Homo sapiens: one gene and its partner. The protein of the gene in region 1 interacts with the protein of each later gene in a pairwise test. Each region holds a gene or a part of one and is shown on either strand. Other genes may lie near its edges.

What was found.
Region 2: the proteins of POLK (region 1) and TRAIP interact in a two-hybrid assay, tested with the Homo sapiens proteins (one study listed by BioGRID).

The regions. Positions count from the first base shown.
Region 1 is NC_000005.10:75,577,809-75,581,563, forward strand, and holds part of POLK (DNA polymerase kappa), read left to right. Parts: intron 1-2,747; coding exon of another isoform or gene 2,748-2,789; intron 2,790-3,400; coding exon 3,401-3,640; intron 3,641-3,755. UniProt on the Homo sapiens protein: DNA polymerase specifically involved in DNA repair. Plays an important role in translesion synthesis, where the normal high-fidelity DNA polymerases cannot proceed and DNA synthesis stalls.
Region 2 is NC_000003.12:49,849,909-49,853,663, forward strand, and holds part of TRAIP (E3 ubiquitin-protein ligase TRAIP), read right to left. Parts: intron 1-3,755. UniProt on the Homo sapiens protein: E3 ubiquitin ligase required to protect genome stability in response to replication stress.

The DNA.
Region 1 (3,755 bases):
GGGCATCAAATACAACTTCATTACCTTATTTAAAGTGCTAAGGGATAGCTCTCTCTTTTTTTTTATAGGAGCATTAAACAATAATCATCATTTCTCGACACAGGCACAGAGCAAAAGGTTTTCCTTATTTGGTGTAACTTTATTGTTTGAGGATGTGGAACATAAAGCCTGATGTCACTTTGTATAAAATCTTACTTTATTAATTCCTTACTTTCACAAGAGAATGGGGGAAAATCATTAAATAATTATGTCAAAGCATCCCCTGAGGGCCTCCCATAACAATTACTTGCATGATGTGTTTTAAAAGCTTTACATTGGGATTAAAGTAAATGTTTTCATTTTCTACTAATTTTTTTCTTTTTTTTGAGATAGGGTCTCACTGTGTTGCCCAGGCTGGAGTGCAGTGGTGCAGTCTCAGCTCACTGCAACCTCCGCCTCCTGGGTTCAAGCAGTTCTCCTGCCTTAGACTCCCAAGTATCTGGGATTAGAGGCGCGTGCCACCACACCCGACTAATTTTTTGTATTTTTAGTAGAGGTGGGGTTTCACCATGTTGGCCAGGCTGGTCTCAAACTCCTGACCTCAGGTGATCTGCCCGCCTCGGCCTTCCAAAGTGCTGGGATTACAGGCATGAGCCACCACGCCCAGCCTACTAATGTTCTTTTCATTTATTATAATGTCCAAACTCACTATGAATATGTGAATTTTTAATATCTATTGCTTTTAACATATTTACTTGTATATTGCCCTCTTCGTGTATTTTCATATTCTTAAACAATTGGAATAGTTAAACTTTTCTTCTCATGTGTAAATACCTGTGGGCTGGACTTTCAGGCGTGTCTCACCTCACATCATGCCATGGGAAATTGTCAATAGTGCATTGGAACTGTGGAAGGCAATTGATATATCTTCCTCTAAAGTCCAAGACATTGTTTTGCTGTTTCCCCATTTTCTAAAAGGTGTTTGTCTTTGGAAATATATTGCTAACTACCATCTCTACATACAAATAAAATAATAATTTTTTAAATGTTTACTCTCCCATGTAAATCTGGATGGTGAGTGCCAGATAATATAAGAAACTGAAATACCATACACTTTTTAGCACTTGTCTTCCAAATGAAATGCTTTAATCCTAGTGTTACATTCTGATTACCTTAGTTATGGGGATTATAAAGATGTTTCTGTCACAAAGCAAATAAGAAACTACTTCAGCTCTTAGTTACACAGCCAGGCCTCACAAAAAAGTAGAAAGTAGTTCAGATTGAAAAGGTACCTGAACATTCTGCAGCAGCTCTGATAATGTGTGAGAAGGCAGCATTCTTCACTTCCTGCTGTATAGTTCTGCTCTCACAGTGGCTCACCTGAGGGCAGGGTGGTAGAGGCATGAGGTACAAAACATGGCATAAAAAACTCTGCAGAACGGGTTTATGAATGTGGCAGATAACTTACTTGGTTTGCAGTTTTTCTGTAGCTTTCTTTACCGTGACTTCTACCCATCCAGATGGGGAAAAGGGCTCCAGGTAGATACCATTTCAATTGTTTCACAGTCTTTATTTTTTTTTTATTTTTTTTTATTTTTTTGAGATGGAGTCTCACTCTGTCACCAAGGCTGGAGTACAGTGGCACAATCTCAGCTCACTGCAACCTCTGCCTCCTGGGTTGAAGTAATTCTCCTGCCCCAGCCTCCGGAGTAGCTGTGCGCCACCATTCCTGGCTCATTTTTGTATTTTTAGTAGAGATGGGGTTTCACCATGTTAGCCAGGCTGGTCTCGAACTCCTGACCTCAGGTGATCCTCCCACCTCAGCTTCCCAAAGTGCTGGGATTACAGACGTGAGCCACCTTGCCTGGCCTGTTTCCCCTCTGAATTGTTCTACATTTTAAAACCAGCATATTAAAAAATGACAGGAACTGAAGCACATAAATATCAGCTAATGTAAGTTTGAAAATAAGGCTTATTGGCGAGGCAAGGTGGTTCACATTTATAATCCTAGCACTTTAGGAGGCTGAGGTGGGAGGATCAGTTGAGGCCAGGAGTTTGAGACCACCCTGGGCAAGATTGTGAAACCCTATATTTACCAAAAAATTATAAAATTAGCTAAGCGTGATGGCTCGCGCCTGTAGTCCTAGCTATACTCCAGCCTGGGCAAGAGGGAGACCCTGTCTTAAAAAAAAAAAAAAAAAAAGAGAGAAAGAAAATAAGCTTATTGTGTATGTGCCCTGGGAATTCAGATTTGGAAAACATCTGACTGAATTAACATCTATGACTTACTTCACACTACATATTTTAAATTTTTAAATTAATCAGATGTCTGTCATATTTATTTTATATTATCTTTAAAATTTTTTCCTAAACAGCCAAATACATTTTTCAAGTAATATACATTCGTATGCATCTTAAAACTAGAAATTTAATTTTTTCTTCTGTATTGACCTTAATTTGGAAAATATTTATATGTAATAAAATTACGAGATGGGATCAGAAAGCTTTGTTGCTAACCTTGGTTGTTATAAATACATTTAAATTGTATTTCTTCTACATTAAGCCAAGAAAACAGGCTTTAATAGATTTGTTCATGGAGACATTTTTAGTATCAGTATAGATTTAAGAATATTTTACAGTCCATTTATGAAAAATATAAATATAAAGAGGCAATAACCAGACTGGTATTTTTACTTTACTTTGTAATAATAGTTTATAGCCTATTAATAATAACGTCTCTTTTTCTTAAACTTGGATTATCCAATCAGACCTTCAGAATTTGTATATTCAAAGAAGCATAACTTTCACAGGTAATTTCTATTTATTACAAATGTGCCCTTAGTCAAAGTGATACTTTATAAACAAGCAAATCAAAATTAAAATCAGCATTTGAAAGAAGAAAATTCAGATTATTTTAACATCTAAAAGGTTTCTTCCATAAATGAAGAAAAGTTAAGTGTTTTTCCTTCTAAAAACAAAACTTATTTTCAGTATAATTATTATATATTGTTTATTATATTCTAAATTCTAATTTTCGAAGATTCTTTTTCTTCCTAAAGAAGAATAAAGAAAAGATTTCCTTTTTTTTTTTTTAAGAAAAAGGTAATGTGAACTGAAACCTAATTCTGAATTTCAATTAATTTAGGTACGAACATTAGTGAGTTTTACATAAGATATTTCCTTTTAATATTTATACTGTGGAAATGGATAATAGTCTTTTTAAGAAAAATTCATAATCAGTGTTCTCTTTAATGGTTATAAAACATTAAATGATAAATGATGGCATTTCTGATCTTGGATCCTAGAAACTAAACTAAACTAGATTTTTGTTTTTGTCTTCAGAAATAATGTAGGGAAACCTAACTTATGAAGTATATACTTCTTAAAATAAAGGTGAGTTATTTTCCTGTTTATGACTTAGATAATCCAGGAAAGGAAGTTAATAAACTGAGTGAGCATGAACGATCCATCTCTCCACTACTTTTTGAAGAGAGTCCTTCTGATGTGCAGCCCCCAGGAGATCCTTTCCAAGTGAACTTTGAAGAACAAAACAATCCTCAAATACTCCAAAACTCAGTTGTTTTTGGAACATCAGCCCAGGAAGTGGTAAAGGAAATTCGTTTCAGAATTGAGCAGAAAACAACACTGACAGCCAGTGCAGGTATTTAAAAGAGTATTGATGGCCACTGTAGTTATAATTTTCAGACTGGCTAATTTAAGTGTAATATTAGTAGTTTCTCATTATAAAGTATATAGTAACATTTTACTTACTTAGT
Region 2 (3,755 bases), on another chromosome or scaffold:
TGATCTTGGCTTACTGCAACCTTCGCCTCCCAGGCTCGAGCAATCCTCCCACCTCAGCCTCCCGAGTAGCTGGGACCACAGGCGTGCACCACCATGCCCAGCTAAAATTCCCATAAGTTTTCAAATACCATGTACAACATATAATCAAGAGTAACCAGGCGCAGTGGAATACTACACAGCAAGAATAAATGAGTCTACAGCTAAGAACAATATTATGAATAAATCACAAAAACATAACACTGAGGAAGAGAAGCCAGATACAAAAAGTTATATTTTGTATGATTCTATTTACACAGTTTAAAAGTAGGCAGGCCAGGCCCAGTGGCTCACGTCTGTAATCCCAGCACTTTGGGAGGTCGAGGCGGGTGGATCATCAGGTCAGAAGTTTGAGACCAGCCTGACCAACATGGTGAAACCCCGTCTCTACTAAAAATAGAAAAATTAGCCGGGTGTGGTGGCGCACGCCTGTAATCCCAGCTACTTGGGAGACTAAGGCAGAAGAATCGTTTGAACCTGGGAGGTGGAGGTTGCAGTGAGCCGAGATCACGCCACTGCACTCCAGCGTGAGGGACATAGTGAGACTCTGTCTCAAAAAAAAAAAAAGTAGGCAAAATTCATCTATGCTCTCAAAGTCAAGACAGTAGCTATCTTAATATGGGGAGGTGGAGGGAGGTGTTGGTAGGGGTTGGAAGAGCATATAAGGAGGTTTCTAGAAGGTTTCTAGAGCTGATAATAGTCTGCATTTTTTTTTTTTTTTTTTTTTTGAGACAGAGTCTTGCTCTGTCAGCCAGGCTGGAGTTCAGTGGCACGATCTCGGCTCACTGCAACCTCCACCTCCCAGGTTCAAGCAATTCTCCTGCCTCAGCCTCCCGAGTAGCTGGGGTTACGGGTGCACGCCACCATGCCCAGCTCATTTTTATATTTTTTTAGTAGAGACAGGGTTTCACCATGTTGGCCAGGCTGCTCTCAAACTCCTGATCCACCCGCCTCGGACTCCCAAAATGCTGGGATTACAGGCATGAGCCACCATGCCCGGCCAATAGCCTGCGTTTTCCTGTTTTCTTTTTTTTTTTTGGTGGGGGGACTTTCGAGACAGGGTCTCACTCTGTCACCCAGGCTGGAATGCAGTAAAGCAATCATGGCTCACAGCTGACTCTACCTCCCAGGCTCAGGTGATGATCACCTCAGCATCCTGGGTAGCTGGGACCACAGGCACATGCCACTATGCTCGGCTAATTTTCTGTGTTTTTAGTAGAGATTTCATCATGTTGCTCAGGCTGTTCTAGAACTTCTGGGCTCAAGCAATCTGCCTACCTCAGCCTCCCAAAGTGCTGGGATCACAGGCGTGAATCAACACGCCCAGCCATACCCTGTTTCTTGATCTGAATTCTGGCTGCATAGATATGTTCAATTTGTAAACATTCTGTAAGCCATATACTTAGAATATGTGTACTTTTCTGAACTATATTATACTTCAATTTTAAAATGTTCTTTTTTTGAAATGGGGTCTCACTCTGTCATCCAGGCTGGAGTGCAGCAGCACAATCATGAGTCACTGCAGCCTCAACCTCCCAGGCTCAAGCGATCCTCCTGCCTCAGCCTTGCAAGTAGTTGGGACTGCAGGCACAGGCCATCATGCCCAGGTAATTTATATTTTTTTCACTTTTTTGTAGAGATGGGGTGTCACTGTGTTGCCCAGACTGGTCTTGGACCCCTGGGCTCAAGCAATCCAGCCACCTCCCAAAGTGCTGGGATTAAAGGGGTGAGCCATCATGCCTAGCCAAAAAAACACTTTTTTTTTTTTTTAAGACTGAGTCTCGCTCTGTCACCCAGGCGGGAGTGCAGTGGTGCAATCTCGGCTCACTGCAACCTCCACCTCCTGAGTTCAAGCGATTCTCCTGCCTCAGCCTTCCAAGTAGCTGGGACTAGAGGCGCCCGCCACCATGCCCGGCTAATTTTTTTGTATTTTTAGTAAAGACGGGGTTTCACCATGTTAGCCAGGATGGTCTCGATCTCCTGACCTCGTGATCCACCAGCCTCGGCCTCCCAAAGTGCTGGGATTACAGTTGTGAGCCACCGCGCCCAGCCAAAAAAACATTTTTTTAAGTAAACAGGTACACAAGAAAAAAAAGCACTATGAAAACAAACCAGAAGAAATGCCCACAAAGACTTTAGGTAGGCCAGGTGCAGTGGCTCACGCCTGTAATCCCAGCACTTTGGGAGGCCGAGGCGGGCAGATCACGAGGTCAGGAGTTCAAGACCAGCCTGGCCAACATGGTGAAACCCCGTCTCTACTAAAAATACAAAAATTAGCCAGGCACGGTGGCGAGCGCCTGTAATCCCAGCTACTCGGGAGGTTGACGCAGGAGAATTGCTTGAACCCAGGAGGTGGAGGTTGCAGTGAGCCGAGATCGGACCATTGCACTCCAGCCTGGGTGACAGAGCGAGACTCTACCTCAAAAATAAATAATAACACAGGATAAAAAAGTTAATGGAATAGAGGCAATATATGAAGAGATAATGGCTGATAATTTTCCAGAACTGATTAAAGAAATTGCTCCACACGGCCAGGCGCGGTGGCTCACGCCTGTAATCCCAGCACTTTGGGAGGCCGAGGCAGGCAGATCATGAGGTCAGGAGATCAAGACCATCCTGACTAACACAGTGAAACCCCATCTCTACTAAAAATACAAAAAATTAGCTGGGCATGGTGGCAGGCGCCTGTAGTCCCAGCTACTCGGGAGGCTGAGGCAGGAGAATGGCGTGAACCCGGGAGGCAGAGCTTGCAGTGAGCCAAGATCGTGCCACTGCACTCCAGCCTGGGTGACACAGCGAGACTCCGTCTCAAAAAAAAAAGAAAGAAAGAAAGAAATTGCTCTACACGTTAAAGAAATCTAATGAATCCCGAGCAGAATTTGTAAAAAGAAATTCGGCCAGGCACAATGGCTCATGGCTGTAATCCCGGCACTTTGGGAGACCAAGGTGGGAAGATCACCTGAGGTCAGGAGTTCGAGACCAGCCTGGCCAACATGGTGAAACCCTGTCTCTGCTACAAGTACAAAATTTAGCCGGGCATGATGACACGTGCCTTTAGTCCCAGCTACTCGGGAGGCTGAGGCAGGAGAATTGCTTGAACCAGGGAGGTGGAGGTTGCAGTGAGTTGAGATTGTCCCACTGTGCTCCAGCCTGGGCAACAGAGCAAGACTCTGTCTCAAAAAAAAAAAAAAGAAAAGAAAAAGGTAAAAAGAAATTCATATTGGATACACTATACCAAAACTGCAGAAAGCCAAAATCAGAGAAAATTCTAAAGGTAATGAGAGTCTGAGGATAAAGTTCCAAAGTATGCTTAAAGGAGTAACTGATAAACTAAAATCTGACTTCAATAGCTACAACGGAAGCTAGAAGTTGGATAAGGGCCGAGTGTGGTGGCTCACACCTGTATTCCCAGCACTTTGGAAGGCCAAGGCAGGAGGATTGCTTTAGGCCAGGAGTTTGAGACCAGCCTGGCTAACATAGCGAGACCTTGTCTCTAAAAACAATAATAAAATAAAATAAAATAAAACAGATGAAAAAAGATATACCATGCAGTCACCAAAAGACAGCTGAAGTGGCTATACTAATAGCAGATAAAATGGACTTTAAATTAGACAAGATAGGCCAGGCACGGTAGCTCACGCCTGTAATCCCAGCACTTTGGGAGGCCGAGGTGGGCGGATCACGAGGTCAGGAGTTTGAGACCAGTCTGGCCAACATAG